Homo sapiens: one gene and its partner. The protein of the gene in region 1 interacts with the protein of each later gene in a pairwise test. Each region holds a gene or a part of one and is shown on either strand. Other genes may lie near its edges. The genes, in order: TSPAN15 and GYPC.

Evidence for each region.
Region 2: the proteins of TSPAN15 (region 1) and GYPC interact in binary tests that used the Homo sapiens proteins (3 or more experiments, as listed by UniProt).

The regions. Positions count from the first base shown.
Region 1 is NC_000010.11:69,495,930-69,504,013, forward strand, and holds part of TSPAN15 (tetraspanin-15), read left to right. Parts: intron 1-2,279; coding exon of another isoform or gene 2,280-2,350; coding exon 2,351-2,467; intron 2,468-8,084. UniProt on the Homo sapiens protein: Part of TspanC8 subgroup, composed of 6 members that interact with the transmembrane metalloprotease ADAM10.
Region 2 is NC_000002.12:126,686,450-126,694,533, forward strand, and holds part of GYPC (glycophorin-C), read left to right. Parts: exon of another isoform or gene 1-196; intron 197-3,805; coding exon 3,806-3,862; intron 3,863-7,414; coding exon 7,415-7,498; intron 7,499-8,084. UniProt on the Homo sapiens protein: This protein is a minor sialoglycoprotein in human erythrocyte membranes. The blood group Gerbich antigens and receptors for Plasmodium falciparum merozoites are most likely located within the extracellular domain.

The DNA of each region.
Region 1 (8,084 bases):
GTTCCTCTCCAGTTACACTGGCTTCCTGCCCCATACCCCCAAATAAAACAAAGTCAGGTGTTGCTACAAGCAACCTTGCAGGGTCCCAGGGCACCACCCTCCAATGGGCAAGGATCCTCCTTCCTTGAGGTGTGAGCAACCTCAAGGGGAGTAACCTACCCCAGTCCAAAGCCCCCTCTGCCAAGTCTCTTCAGTGACAACTCACTCCTTGTCAAGTTAAAGACATCCCTGATTGGGAGAAAGTTCTTCACTAATTTCAGTTTCCCCCAAATATGGGACAGTGAACCAGACGCCTCTCTTACTTTCATGACACTTCCTTGAATGTGATGATGATCCTATTCCTTTTGGGACACCATCTCTCCCCTCTAGGTCCACCCAAATCTGTTGGTGCAATAATAATAATAATAATAATAATAATAATAATAATAATAATAATAATAATGGCAGTGGTAGGGCCAGCTGCTGTCCTGGGTGGCTTTTGTACATCAACTTCACTTGGTCCTGAGCCTCAGCTTCCTCACCTACATAAGGGGAATAATGACAGGAGCTCTTGGGGCGTCGTCATGAGGATTACCTTGACTTAATTCAGGAGACGTGCTTAGAACAGTGCCAAGCACAGGGTGAGACCACAGTGCCAGCTGTGGGGATCATTGGTATGTTCTCCTGGGTGAGGACAAGTAGAGTGAGGGCTGCAGGCCCACTCAGCCGGGACAGCACTTCCTGGGACATAATCTTGGGGGCCTCAGCTGGCCTGGATCCTTGTGCCAGCTCTCAGTGGGGACTAGCCTCTCCCCACATGCAGGGCCACTTGCTGTGGCCGCTCCCTTGGCCCAGACTTTCTCTTCAGTCACAACAGGTGCAGCCTCTGGAAGGTCTTTTTCTGCCAGGGATGTGCCTGCCAGCTTGGGCTGGGAGAGCTGACTTCTGCTCCGGGTGGAGTGAGATGTTTTTATTGGAACCAGCCTTTAGCTGGCTTGGGGATTTCATTTCTCCTGGCATAGAGGTAGGAGGTGATTAATGCTGAATGGGCACTTGCTTGGTGCCAGGTCCAGTGCTGAGTGCTTCATGCATGGCACTCTATGTAATCACAGCTCAGCTGTGCAGAGCTGCCATCCTTATTCTTGCTTTACAGACAACCATCTGAGGCTCAGAGAGGCTGACCAACTTGCCTGAGGTTGCACAGCAGGGAGTGGTGGTCTGAGGATTTGACCTTGGGTCTGTTCCATTGCAAGACAAATGCCCTTTGAACTACATTGCAGAAAGACAGTTCTAGGTCCCAAAACCTGGTGGCTTAAGGGGCACTGTGGGGACTCTGAAAGGTGTCTGGCTACCAGGACGTGTACTGCAGCCCTGGTTGAGCCCTCCAGTCCCAGCTCCCTGCTTCAGCTGGCTGGCAAAGCTTTGCATGGTCCAGCCTGTGCCGCCCTTTCATCCTCATGCTCTGCACTCTCTCTGTTCCAGGCTTGTTGGCCTCCGCACCTGCTGCTGAAATACAAGCTTGTTTCTGCGTGGGGCCTTTGCATGGGTCGTCTGGCTTCTTTCTGTTTCCATGTTTCAGATGAAATATCCTCTCTACAAAGAGCCCTTTCATGACCTGCCAACCTAGAGCTGCCCCTCCCCACTTTCCCCCTATTTCTCCATTTCCAGGTTGCACAGCACCTTTCCATCCAGTGCTCACTCTCTGTCTCTCCACTGGAATGTGTTCCACCTGAGCAAGGGCTGCCTTGCTTTTGCTCACCCTGTCTCTCCAGTGCCCAGGACAATGCCAGGCACATACCAGCCATCAGGAGGGTTACCAACTACTTCCTACAGGAGCAGGGAGGGGAGGCAGGGAGGGGCTCGGCTAAGGGGAGAGCTCCAGGCAGGTTGTGAGGTGTGGGTGCTCTCCTTGCTAAGGGCAGGGCCAGCTGAGCTGGACGGGGTGGCTCCTAGGGTGGGTGCGAAGGTTGGTTGAGGTGCAGGGACTTTCACAGAATCATGCTTGGTCTCTGGGACTTTAAGGGCCATCTTTTCCAGCCTAGCACCTGCATTTGGGGACACGAAGATGAAGAAAGTGGAGGCCAGTTGTCAAGGAAGGACCTTTCCTCCCAGTGCCTAGTCACTACCCTGATATCCCACCAAGAGGCAGCCCAGCCTTGGCTTCCATACCTCTCTAGTGACAGGGGGTTCACTACCCTCTAGGCAGCCATGCCACACTTTGACAGCTCTGACTTGAAAGTGTACAGCCTCTCCCTGCCCCAGGGTGACCCACATAATAAACTGCCTCCGTCTCCTGACAGGGCCCCTTCCTGTCGTCTGAGCAGGGCCTGGGCGATGACGGCAGCTCCTCTTTCCTGCTTGCTTCCCTCAGTTCAAGTGCTGTGGCGGGGAGGACTACCGAGATTGGAGCAAGAATCAGTACCACGACTGCAGTGCCCCTGGACCCCTGGCCTGTGGGGTGCCCTACACCTGCTGCATCAGGAACACGGTAGACACTGCTCCTGTGGGGACTGGGGGGCTGTCGGGGACCCCAGGTGGTATAAATGTTCTCTTTTCTCTCTTCCCAACTTGAAGATGGGTGGTGTGGGTGGATGGCAGGGAAGTAGGAGTTGGTGGCAGAGCGGAGGCTTTCCTGATTCTCAAGGGCTCCTGAAAGTGGAGCTTCTGGGGGTCGGGGGTAGGGAGACCATGTCTTTCTTAGTGGTGTTGGTTAAAATCTATTGAGCACCTACCTTGTGCAGGCCTGCTCTGGGCACTTTGGTGGTATTTACTCATTTAGTATTCACGACAACCCTGTGAGGTATGTACTGTTATTTTACCCACTTTACAGATGAGGAAATTGAGGCACTCAAAGGCTGGGTGTCTTGCCCAAGGTTGGCAGGGCTGGGATGAAGTGCAGGCAGCTGTTGCCTGAGCTACACTCTGGAGAACTGTGCAGGCCAGGTGAGGGCAGGAGGGAGAGGTGCCCAGGCCAGGGGAGCTTAGCGGGGGTAGCTGGCTCTGCAGCATTAGTGGAGGCAGGCAGGACCTGCACCTTGGGCATCTCCATTGGTCTTTGGCCTTGAGGTCCTGGTGATCATCAGCAGCAGAGTGCTTGGAAGGGGGTCTGGTGACGTAAATGCCATCCTCTTCCTCTCCCCAGCACGATCCTCTCGGGTCTGTCACCTTGGTCATTTGGGATGATGTCTTGTGTTGTCAGCGCTTAAGTGAAAGGCTTCATCAGTCCTTGTGTTTGACAAATGTGTCCAGAAACTGTTTCAGGATTGGAACGAGGTGGAGAGCTTTGCAATTACTCATGGCCCAGATAGTCATGGAAAGTTTTTCTCCTGACATTGCCACCATTCTGTGCCCACTGCTGGATTCTGTAAACTGAGCAGCTGCGGGTGGGGGCCTCGCCCATGAGTCAGAGAGCCAGTGCCAAGTGCACTAGCTCTAAAAAAGGCCGGGCCAGGAGGGAAGCTTTGTTTGGAAGTGTTAGCTGCCATTTTAGGGTAGTTCTCTGGGAAGTGGGGTGCTGAGGAGTAGCAGAGTTTCCAGAGAGGCCTGCGTGGGGTGATCCTGAACCTCATCACCCAGGGCAGCAGCATCTGAATACCTAAGCTGAGATGTGGAAGCCAAACTTGTATTCATTCATTCATTCATTCATTCAACAAATATTGGCTGAGAACCTACTCTATGCCAGACACATTTCCAGGTTCTGGGGGTGTAGCAAACAAAGTCTCTGCCCGCAAGGAGGTGACATCCTAGTGGAGAAAACTGACAAACAAAATAAGTAAAAGATAGAGGATCATAAATGCTGAGTAGAAAAAGAAAGTAGGGCATGGAGGATTGCAGTTTGGGATACTGAGAAAGGCGGGATCTGGGTGAAGCTCTGAAGAAAGTGAGGAAGGTGTCTGGGGGAGGGGCATTCCTGGCAGCAAGAACAGCTGTGCAAAGGCCCCAGGTGGGAATCACCCCAGGGCGTTTGAGAAATGCACAGAGTGGCTGGAGCAGAGGGAGCACAGCGGAGGATGGTAGGAGGTGGAGTCAGGGAGGTCATGGGTACCCCGAAGGCCACAGGCAGGACTGTGGGGCACCCTTGAGTGATGGACCATACAGGGCTGCATGGAAGAGGGGCACTCTGACTTGGTTTTACAAGAATCAGTCTGGCTGTTGTGAGGGACATGCTAGATGCAGGGATAGAGTTAGGGGCTGATATGCAGTGATCCAGGGGTCATAGGTCATCTTGTCCAGGAAGGTGCTCTTGGATCAACACCTGTGGAAGTGGGAGCCAGAAGCGGGATTGGGCAATGAAGGGAGTTGAGCAGTGATGCAGCCTCAGCTCAGTTCGGCTGGAGGCCTCAGCCACATCTATGAGGACAGCCCTTCAGAGTTGTCCCCTACTGGGGTGAGGGGGCCAGGCCTTCACACTCCCACCCACATTGACCAGGCATTGCATGAGTCCAGTGGTCCACCCAAGAAGGGACTTGCTGGCTCTGTTCAGCCAAGAACAGACTAATACAGCAAGAGGAAAGAGAGGGATTGATTGATGATAAGGAATTGGCTTGTGTAATTATGGAGGCGGGCAAGTCCCAAGATCTGCAGGGTGAGTCGGCAGGCTGGAGACCCAGGAGAGCTGAGGGTGGAGTTCCCATTCAAAGGCTGGTCAGGCTTCAAACCTAGGAAGAGCCAGCATTTCAGTTCAAGCCCGAAGGTAGCCAAGCAGGGAGAATTCTCTTATGGTCACTGAGGAGAGGGCAGTCTTTTGTTCTGTTCAGGCCTTCCCTGATCAGATGAGACCTCTCCCCCTTGGGCAGGGCCATCTGCTTTACTTAGTCTGCTGATTTAAACATTAGCCTCATGCAGAAACACCCCCACAGAGACACCCAGGATAATGTCTGGCCAAATATCTGGGTATCCCATGGCCTGGTCATGTTGACATATAAAATTAATGATCACATGAAGTAGTTATTGCAGGGGGCTGACACCTAAGGGCTCCCCACAGCATCCCTGCACCAGGGAGGGGAAGACAGATGCTTGGAGCTGGGTGGTGGTGGTGGTGGTGGAAGTGGCAAACCGTGGTGACATTCTGGCTGTATTTTGCAAGTAAGCCTACAGGATTTGCTCGCATAGCAGATGTGGGCGATGAATGAAAGAGAGAAATCAAGGAGGATACCCAGGTTTTGGTCTGAGCCACAGGAAAGACGGGGCTGCCACTGCCTGAGAGGGGAGGACTGCAAGGAGGCAGGCTGGGTGACCAGGAGCTCACCGTGGACGTGGGGGGTTTGAGAGCCTGTTCAGCATCCCATCAGGGGTGTCAAAGATGCGGTTGGATATAGGAGTCTGGAGTTCTGGGAACGACTAGGCAAGGGGTGTAAACACGGACATCATCTGCAGATAGGGTAGAATCTAAAGACAGCATCTGAATGAGAGCACTGAGGTAGGGAGGAGCCTTCCCCTGGCCGGGGTTATCTGACCCTGTGTTACACATGACCATTGAGTCTCCCTGTGCCACCACACCTGGATGATTTTCTCTAAATGTGAAACAGGGCGTTCGCTTCCTCCATAGAACTGGTTGATTTGTGTCCAGATCTATTTATTTTACACTGTACTATTCAACCTGGGATTTGAATGAGTACACGGGAAATATGTAGTGTAAAAAACTAAAATAGCATTAAAAATCAGGACTGTGGGAATTGTATTCTCAGATAGGAGGCCTAGATGATGGAGAAAAATATAAAATCCTGCTATCTAAGCCTCAGGACCTCATGGACTCACTGAAAAGGAGCTGAGCCTCGTGTCTGGTGGCTTGGAGCAGGGCTCCCCTACCTCCAGGCCATGAACCAGTACCGGTCAGTGGCTTGTTAGGAACCAGGTCGCACAACAGGAGGTGGGCAGAGGTTGAGGGAGCATTGCCACCTGAGCTACACCTCCTGTCACATCAGCAGCAGCATTAGAGTCGCATAGGAGTGTGAACCCTATTGTAAACTGTGCATGCAAGGGACCTAGGGTGCATGCTCCTTATGAGAATCAAACTAATGCCTGATGATCTGAGGTGGAATGGTTTCATCCCGACACCATCACCCCCCACCCCCCCGCACCCCATCCTGTGGAAAAATTATTTTCCTTGAAACCAGTCTCTGGTGCCAGAAAGGTTGGAGACCACTGGCTTAGAGTTTCCTGGCAACCAAAAGGAAAAGGGAGACATGGTCTGTTACATTGTTACTGTTCAGCAGAACATACCAGCAGAACATACCAGTTCTTCAGGGAAAGTAACCTTTTCCCTAACACTCAGCTTTAAAAGAAATGTCTTATATGAGCTTCCAATAGAGGATTTGAGCCATAGAAGTTCACATAGGGCTGTAAAATCTGGTTATACCAGGATATATCCCTCGGAGATGTTGGTGCAGAGGGCAGCGTGCTTCTACATTAAATGGCTCCAGACTGCTGTGCCTGCTGAGCTCTTGGGACCAATTTTCACGTACCTCCCCTCCCTTGTTGTTGGCTACCCCTTGGGGGCCTGTCGCGAAGGCCCCTCTCCCTGTCCCCATTAGCTGCTCAGTCTTTTCAGGGTGAGAGGATGCACACACAAACATTGCTGTGATCTTCTGGCTGCCCAGGAGTCCCCCTTCTGACTTCCTGTCCTGTGGCCCCGTGCAGGATGGAAGAGGCTACTGGACCCTGGTCTTGGGGCCTGTGAACTTCAGCAGAGCCTCTTGCAGAATATCGATTCTATGGTCAGGCAGGTAAACCCAGGCAGGCTTTACTTTTGGAAAGACTATGGATGCATCGTATCCCCTCACCCCTTGGTGAGGGGCTCTCCTGGCAGGGTGAGGTGAGTCCCCCCTGGGCCTGGAGAAGGGTTCTGGGCTCTGATGCCAGAGAGGCCTCTGCCAGTTGCCTGTGTGCTAAGAGACTCATCCCCCGAGGTCACCAGAGCTGGCCCAGTGAAGTCACTCTTGTCACCTCCCTACGTACCATGCAGCTTACCTATTTGTTATGTTCATTATCTCCCTTTCTACAGTGTAAGTTCCATGAAGGCAGGGACTTTGTCTTGTTGTTCTGTATTTCAAGTGACTAGAACTGGGATTGACATGCAATAGGTGCTCAGTTAATATTTGTTCAATGAACAAATGAATGAACCAATGAGATGGAAAGCACTCACTCCCATCATGTGCCCGTGCACCTGCTCTCCAGGCCTGACCCTCTCCATAGGGGTTGTGTTTATGGCCTGGAAGGGCCAAAAACACTGGCTGACTAATGCCCAGTGGGCACTGGGCATGGCTGGGACTGAGGCTACCTGGAGAACCAGCTAAACCGAGGGAGGTCGTCTTGCCTGCACATCAAGCCCTGACATTTAGAATGACCTAGATGACATCTGAGGCCCAACCCTCTCTCGGAAGGAGAGAAGACACCCTCCCTTTCCTTTGCAGGGGCTGGAATTGTGAACAAATCACGCCAGCCAGCATTCTTGTGCTCCTCCATGTGCCCAGCCCCGTGATAAGCACTTTATATGTGTATCTCACTTTATGTCCAAAACAGCCCTAGGAGGTGGGTTCTGTGATCATCACAACCTATTCATTCATTCATTTTCTCAGTTAACAAATATGTATTGAGTACCTCTGCGTGCCAGTTCCTTAGCAGCCCACCTAAGGTTGGGCTCTGCTCCTAAGTGGCAGAGCAAGATCTGGACCCAGGAAATGTGACACCAGAGGGCACGCTGGGGGCTCTGCTGTTGCCCTCCTGAGTCATCACTGGCGCCTGCAGCACTCACGGCAGCGTTCACTTACATGTAGAGCAGCGGGGCTGGGGGGGACGGTCATGGGCTGGACCAGGAAGTCTCACTCTCTTCCCTGGTGGTTGGAGAAGGAGACCCTGCGGGGCACAGGTGGTGATGGGAAGTGCCCGCGGCAGCCTGTGAGTTAGGGCCTGCCTGGGGAGGGGTTTGATGAGGTCTAGGGCGTGACCACAGGTTTCCCTATGCCTAAATTAATCAGTAGTCGGGAGTTCTGGAGAGCACCTCTCTTCCCAAGAAGGAAGTTTTGGCAGCACTCTCCGCTGGTGGAGCAGTGGTCTATGGAACGGAAGCATGGCCAGGGGCCCTGCCCTGGACCTCAGGTAAACCA
Region 2 (8,084 bases), on another chromosome or scaffold:
GGCAAATCCCATGGATGAAAAGCCACTCCCAACTCCACAAAGATGAGCATAGTGAAGGCTGCAGTTTAGTTGGTTCGTGGTTCCCCAGAAGGCTTTCAAACATTCAGCAGTTGTCATTCAGTGCCAGGCACCCAGTCTAATGCTGAGTATAGAGTTGTGAGCAAGACAAGCCTGAACGTGTGGAGCTTCCTGTCTGGTAGGGTGTTGCAGGGGGCCGGGGGGACCTTGCAACCTGGAGGAGGGCTGGGAAGAAAAAAAGTAGGATGCTTGGGTCTTTCCAAAAAATAGGTCCTCTCATGTCTGTCCAATCGTTGTGCTGGGTAATTGTCTATTTCTGATACCAGACCCAAGCTTGGCCGTAATCAACACCTTATTCTGCCATGAACCCACCCCCAAGGCTGCCCGCAGATCACCCCCATCCTAGTTGCTGAGCTCAGCATGATCCTAATCTCAACCTCAGAAGTATCCCTCAGCTCCAGCAAGGGGCAGGCTTTCATTCCAGGCCCCTTAAGCTGGATGCAGACCAACCACCTACTTTCTGGGCTGGATCTGAGCTCACTCAGCCAGTCTTCTCCAAAGACCTGATATCACTGCTGCTAGCTGAATGGGTACAGTGTAAGGGAGTGCGCCAAGGGGGGCTCTCACCCCTCCATCTCCAGAGGCTTCCGGAGCCTTGGAGCCGTGGATGGCAAGCAGACACTGGGGAGAAAGCTGAGAAGTGGGGAGAGCTGCCTTAGATGCTGAGCTCTCTGCCTGGAATGCTTATAGGCTTTGTGCAGCAAACTCCTATTTGCCCTTAAAGGACTAATCCTGATGTCACCGCTTCTGGAAGCCCTCTTTACACCAGCACTTCCCAGCCTACAGCATGAATCAGAATCTACTATAGTAATTACTGGGTCCCAGTCCTAGTGTTTTTCTTCAGTAGGTCTGGGCTGGGGCCTGAGAATTTCTATTTCTAACAGGCTCCCAGAGGATGCTGTGTATCCAGAGACTATGCTTTGAGAATTGCTGTCTCACAGCATCCACACCTTCCCAGACAGCCTTGAGCTTCCTCTCTATGCTGATTCTGATCTATCAATATAGGGCAGCTCTGGTTGGGCTGAAATGTCACTCCCCTGGAGTCTGTCACATTGTGAAACATGTGTAAATTCAGCTCCACACACTTGGTGGGGTGGGGGGCATGGAGAGAGTAGTTCCAGCTGAGGGAACTTTCCTGCCCACCACGCTCCTCAGAGGGCATGAGCTTGGAGGGAGCCCACATTGGGAGGCCCAGCTGGCAATCCCAATGGTCTCCCAATGAGGCCCCGAAGCTCTCAGGTCCTACCTCCCCTCCCAGCCTGGCTGCCCTGCTGGAAGTGTGTGTAGTCTCCCAGTATACAGATTTGAGTACAAGGTCCCTAACCAGAAGCCAAGAAATGCACCCCAAGTTGTTCAAGCCAAATATCTCACCTGGAAACCAGCTTACCAAGGCTCTACACTTTGCAGTGCCCTGTAAGGCTAAACACACTGACTCAAGGCTGCCAGGGCTTCAAATGATTGACTTCTGACTCTCAAGGTACAAGCCGGGGAAAATAACACTTTTCTGGGACGCAGCTGCCAAATCTGGAAAATGGGGCTAATAATAACTCCTATCGAATGGAAATGTTGCAAGGTCTGAGTTAAAATACATTAAATGTTGAGAGCAGCACCTGGCATTTAGTATGAAATTATTAACTGTTTTAAAGGAAGGGAAAATAACAGTCCCTTCTAACCCTGATTGTGTTGGACAAACTGTCATAAGAAATGCTGGTCTTTACCTGGAAAATTTCTAAGGGCAGTTCTGGGTATTTGAGCTTCTATAACCATCCATGCCTACTTAAGCAAGATGTTATTCTTTCTTTCCGAACTTTGAGGTGCATAGTGGTTAGAAAAGTCTAGAACTCCACCACTAAATCCATTCATTTATACATGCATGCATTTACTCATGCATTCAGTGAATATTTATTGAGTACCTACTATGAGCTAGATACTAAATTGGAGGCTGCACTTGTTCACTGTAATAAAGTCTAGCACCCACTTGAACTTGCTATGGCTCCTGCTTCAGGTCTTGCTACTGAGAAGCACTGTGAATGCTGGATCCTCTACCCTGCCTGGTTCCTGGTTCCCAAGGTGCTGACTCCAGACCCAGAGTTCACTGGGTCTCTTGGCGGCCTCAGTGCCTTGTATTATCTTCTTCCCCACCTCCAAGCTCCTTGGTGGCCCCAGACACCACTAGCTTGGCCCACCTGCTTCCTGCTGTGGACCCCTAGCTGGGAGTCTGTTTTCCCCTCACCCACTATGACTCCTGACTCCAGCAGGCAGTTACTTATAAGAAAGAGGCATCTGGCAGCTGCACTGGGGAGAATGACCTCATAGCACTATAATTAAAGTGATCATCTGAGTGGAAATGACTATTATGAAGCATCCTTCTCTGTTTTATTATGTAGAGCCATTGTAATGGGAATACGGGATTTCCTATGTTAATGCTGATATTTCTGTGATCCAATAAATCCTTCTTCACAATCATCTCCCAGAGGAAAGAAGGCATTCTGTGCAGCAGCTCTAGGAAACATCAGGTCCCCAATGTCCTAGACATCCTACCCTCTTTGGCCAGGCCATTAAGCTGTGAAAAAACACACTCAGTAACTTGGATAATGTCATAGAGTGGTCCTTCCCACAGCAGAGTCAATGTAAAGACCTATGGGAGGGCTTCAGGAATGACTCCTCAGACAGGAGCCCTGGGAAGGGCTTCTCCAAGAGAGAAAGTGCACTCCAGAGGCAAGAGCACTGGCCAAGTCCTGACCTGATACCGGATGAGCTGTGTGATCATGGGCACATCACGTCTCTGAGCCTTGGTGTTCTTCCTGTGAGATGGGCCAATAACACCAGGCACCTCATAGGATGGATGTGAAGACTGCATGATAGAGTAGATAGAAGGCAGTTAAAGCAACACCTGGTGCTATGGTTTGGATGTGGTTTGACCCTGCAAAAGCTCATGTTGAAATTTGGTTCCCAAGGTGGCAGTGATGGGAGGTGGGACCTAGTGGGGGATAGTTGAGTCACAGGGGCAGATCCCTCATGCATACATTAATACCCCCTTGAGGGAGGGAGGGAGTTCTAGCTGTCGTGAGACTGGATTAGTCACTGGAGAGCAGGTTGTTATAAAAGCAAATTCAGCTTTCTAAACTCTCTTGCTTTCTATATCACCTTGTGGTCTCTTTGCGAATGTCAGATCCCCTTCTGCTTTTTGCCATGAGTGGGAGCAGTATGAGGCCCTCACCAGATGCAGCTGCCCAATTTGGACTTCCCAGCCACTAGAACTGTGAGCCAAACAAACCTCTCTTCTTTACAAATTACCCAAGTATTCAGCTATAGCAACTCAAATTGGACTGAGACACCTGGTGTGAGCATCAGACACTCCACAAACATTCTTTCTTAAACACAACAAGAGTCCCTGCCTTCATACACAGCACAGATATCTGTTGAGCATCTACCACATGCAGGCACCACTCTCAGTGGAGGCATACTGCAGAGAACTTAAATGGGCCTGGAGTGACCTGGTGGTTCAGGTTCAAACAGTTCCATCCCAGTCAGTGACCAAGCAGAACCTGGTTCCTGGTCTGTGCACCCCTGCTAGGAGTCGGTGGGTGCACCACACTGTCTCTGTCCACTTGAACCCATTCTCAGAGCTGCTCACACCTGAGCAAAGGATGCAGCTTGGGCCAAGGTGCTGCTAGGCATGGAGAGTCTTCCTCTCTGACCTCAGATTCTTGTCCTCTGTTCACAGAGCCTGATCCGGGGATGGCCTCTGCCTCCACCACAATGCATACTACCACCATTGCAGGTGAGTTCTCATCACAGAGCCTCACCATAATGGAAACTGCCGTGACTTCAGATGAGCTCTCATCACAGAGCCCTTTAAGCAGCCAGGGTTGGGGGACTTGGTGAAAACATCCAGGGGAGAACTGACCTAAGGACTTGGACAGGGGTGGCTGTGGCCATTTTTTCTCTCCCTCAGAGGTGGTTTTGAATGTGGAATGGAGGAGTCTACCCCTGGGTAAATAAATATACATAGGTATGTCATATGTATCTGTATTTATATTTATTGGCCTTTCTCAGGGCTGTTGACTCACAGGAACTCAGGAGCTGGAGAGGCAGCAGTTTTGGTGAGGGAGGTTGAGGGTGGAGGTGAGATGAGGGTAGACTGACCAGGCTACTTAGACTTCTCCACCGTCTCCCTCATCCCACATTATTTTCTTCCCTGGGTCCATGACCCCCAACCCTCCATCCTCAAGGAAACTTGAGCCTGCCTTTGCCTTGCTTTGAACCCTGAGCAACGGGCTCCCCATGGGTCATGGCTGTGACTGCAAACTGTGTTTGAAGAACAACCAAGTTTGGGAGGTGCTGTGTGCTCTGCGACCTTCTTTGAGATCCACACTTCTCAGCAGCTTATTAATAACTCAGGAAACATCTACAATTTGAAAAGAAAGAAAAAGCAGCAGAAGCAAGCAATCAAAGACACCTGTTGGACTCTGTGTAACCTGGCATTCTCCAACTCATTGCACCACTGAGCTTTTATTCTTCCTAGGTGATATTATTAACATTATGCAGATACAAGTGTTCCCCTGAAGGCAGTAGGAAGTTTAGGAAATTGTTCTATAAAGGTGGGACTTGGGAGCAGTTTCAGACTTTCCATATTCTTCAGCAGTCCCTCCCCAAGGCCTCCAAATAAACCTGCATTCTAAGAAAAGACAGAGGCTTGCTCTGCAGCTTCAAAGTAAATGCCCAAACTCAAAACACCCCCACCCCATGAGACTGCTGCCCCCTCACTCTCAAGGTCCTGAGTGATCTGACCCCTCCTGAGCAGCCTTACACTGTACTTCCCCACCCCTCTGGAGTCCCAGCAGAAGTGAGGGGTGACTGCCCCTCGCACAGCCAACACCTTGGCATTCTCTGCGTTACCCTCTCCCACTTCAGTCCTTTGTGTGGCCAAGTCCTGCTCCTCCTGCAGACTCACCCCAGTCCTCAATCGCCAGGAGGGAATGGGAGCAGGGTAGGCTGAGGAGCAGTCATCGGGCCATTGAAAAACACAAACCACACAACCTGCCCCAAGCACAGTTAATAGCCTCATTTTTCCCCCTGTATAGTGTACATACAGCAACCAGCTCTGCCCTGTTTTCTGGGACTTCCCTGGTTTTAGAATGAATAATCTCCAAGCAGTGTTCTTGCAACTGTTGCAAGGACCATGTTAAATTGCTTTAAATGTTGAGACCTGCACCTGGCACCTAGTAAGCGATTGTTAGTTGTTTTAAAGGAAGAGGAAATAACAGTCTCTTCTAACGCTGATTGTGTTGGACAAACTGTCCTAATAAATGCTGTCTTCACCTGGAAAATTTCTGAGGGCAGTTCTGGGTATTTGAGCTTCTATAACCATCCATGCCTACTTAAGCAAGGTGTTATTCTTTCTTTCTGAACTTTGAGGTGCTTGTTGATTGGAAAAGTCTAGAACCCCACCACTAAATCCATTCATTTATATATGCATGCATTTACTCATGCATTCAGTGAATATTTATTGAGTACCTACTATGTGCTAGATACTAAACTGGAGGCTGCACTTGTTCACTCTATATAATAAAGTCTAGCACCCACTTGAACTTGCTACGGCCCTTGCTTCAGGTCTTGCTACTGAGAAACACCGTGAATGCTGGATCCTATACCCTGCCTGGTTCCTGGCTCCCGAGACCCAGATCCTGAGCCAGTGTTCACTGGGTCCCTGGGCTGCCTCAGTGCCTTGTATTATCTTCTTCCCCACCTCCAAGCTCCTTGGTGGCCCCAGACACCCCTAGCTTGGCCCATCTGTGTCCTGCTGTGGACCCCTAGCTGGGAGTCTGTTTTCCCCTCACCCATTATGACTCCTGACTCCAGCAGGCAGTTACTTATAAGAAAGAGGCATCTGGCAGCTGCACTGGGGAGAATGACCTCATAGCACTATAATTAAAGTGATTATCTGAGTGGAAATGACTATTATGAAGCATCCTTCTCTGTTTTATTATGTAGAGCCATTGTAATGGGAACGTGGGATTTCCTATGTTAACACTGATATTTCTGTGATCCAATAAATCCTTCTTCACAATCATCTCCCAGAGGAGAGAAGGCATTCTGTGCAGCAGCTCTAGGAAACATCCCGGTCCCCAATGTCCTAGACATCCTACCCTCTTTGGCCAGGTCATTAAGCTGTGAAAAAACACACTCAGTAACTTGGATAGTGTCATAGAGTGGTCCTTCCCACAGCAGAGTCAATGTAAAGACCTATGGGAGGGCTTCAGGAATGACTCCTCAGACAGGAGCCCTGGGAAGGGCTTCTCCAAGAGAGAAAGTGCACTCCAGAGGCAAGAGCACTGGCCAAGTCCTGACCTGATATCGGATGAGCTGTGTGATCAAGGGCACATCACGTCTCTGAACCTTGGTGTTCTTCCTGTGAGATGGGCCATTAACACCAGGCACCTCATAGGATGGATGTGAAGACTGCATGATAGAGTAGATAGAAGGCAGTTAAAGCAACACCTGGTGCTATGGTTTGGATGTGGTTTGACCCTGCAAAAGCTCATGTTGAAATCTGATTCCCAAGGTGGCAGTGATGGGAGGTGGGACCTAGTGGGAGATATTTGAGTCACAGGGGCAGATCCCTCATGCATACATTAATACCCCCTTGAGGGAGGGAGGGAGTTCTAGCTGTCGTGAGACTGGATTAGTCACTGGAGAGCAGGTTGTTATAAAAGCAAATTCAGCTTTCTAAACTCTCTTGCTTTCTATATCACCTTGTGGTCTCTTTGCGAATGTCAGATCCCCTTCTGCTTTTTGCCATGAGTGGGAGTAGTATGAGGCCCTCACCAGATGCAGCTGCCCAATTTGGACTTCCCAGCCACTAGAACTGTGAGCCAAATAAACCTCTCTTCTTTATAAATTACCCAAGTATTCAGCTATAGCAACACAAAATGGACTGAGACACCTGGTGTGAGCATCAGACACTCCACAAACATTCTTTCTTAAACACAACAAGAGTCCCTGCCTTCATACACAGCACAGATATCTGTTGAGCATCTACCACGTGCAGCACCACTCTCAGTGCAGGCATTAGGCAGATAACTCAAATGGGCCTGGAGTGACCTGGTGGTTCAGGTTCAAACAGTTCCATCCCAGTCAGTGACCAAGCAGAACCTGGTTCCTGGTCTGTGCATCCCTGCTAGGAGCAGTGGGTGCGCCGCACTGCTCCTTTCCACTTGGACCCATTCTCAGAGCTGCTCACACCTGAGCAAAGGATGCAGCTTGGGCCAAGGTGCTGCTAGGCATGGAGAATCTTCCTCTCTGACCTCAGATTCTTGTCCTCTGTTCACAGAGCCTGATCCAGGGATGTCTGGATGGCCGGATGGCAGAATGGAGACCTCCACCCCCACCATAATGGACATTGTCGTCATTGCAGGTGAGCTCTCATCACAGAGCCCTTCAAGCAGCCAGGGTGGGGGGCCTTGGTGAAAACATCCAGGGGAGAACTGACCTAAGGACTTGGGCAGTGGTGGCTGTGGCCATTTTTTCTCTCCCTCAGAGGTGGTTTTGAATGTGGAATGGAGGAGTCTAGCCCTGGGTAAATATATATATACATGCATACATCGTACGTATCTATGTATGTATTTATTGGCCTTTCTCAGGGCTTTTGACTCACAGGAACTCAGGAGCTGGAGAGGCAGCAGTTTTGGTGAAGGAGGTTGAGGGTGGAGGTGAGATGAGGGTAGACTGACCAGGCTACTTAGACTTCTCCACCATCTCCCTCATCCCACATTATTTTCTGCCCTGGGTCCATGACCCTCAACCCTCCATCCTCAAGGAAACTTGATCCTGCCTTTGCCTTGCTTTGAACCCTGGGCAAGGGGCTCCCCATGGGTCATGGCTGTGACTGCAAACTGTGTTTGAAGAACAACCAAGTTTGGGAGGTGCTGTGTGCTCTGCGACCTTCTTTGAGATCCACACTTCTCAGCAGCTTATTAATAACTCAGGAAACATCTACAATT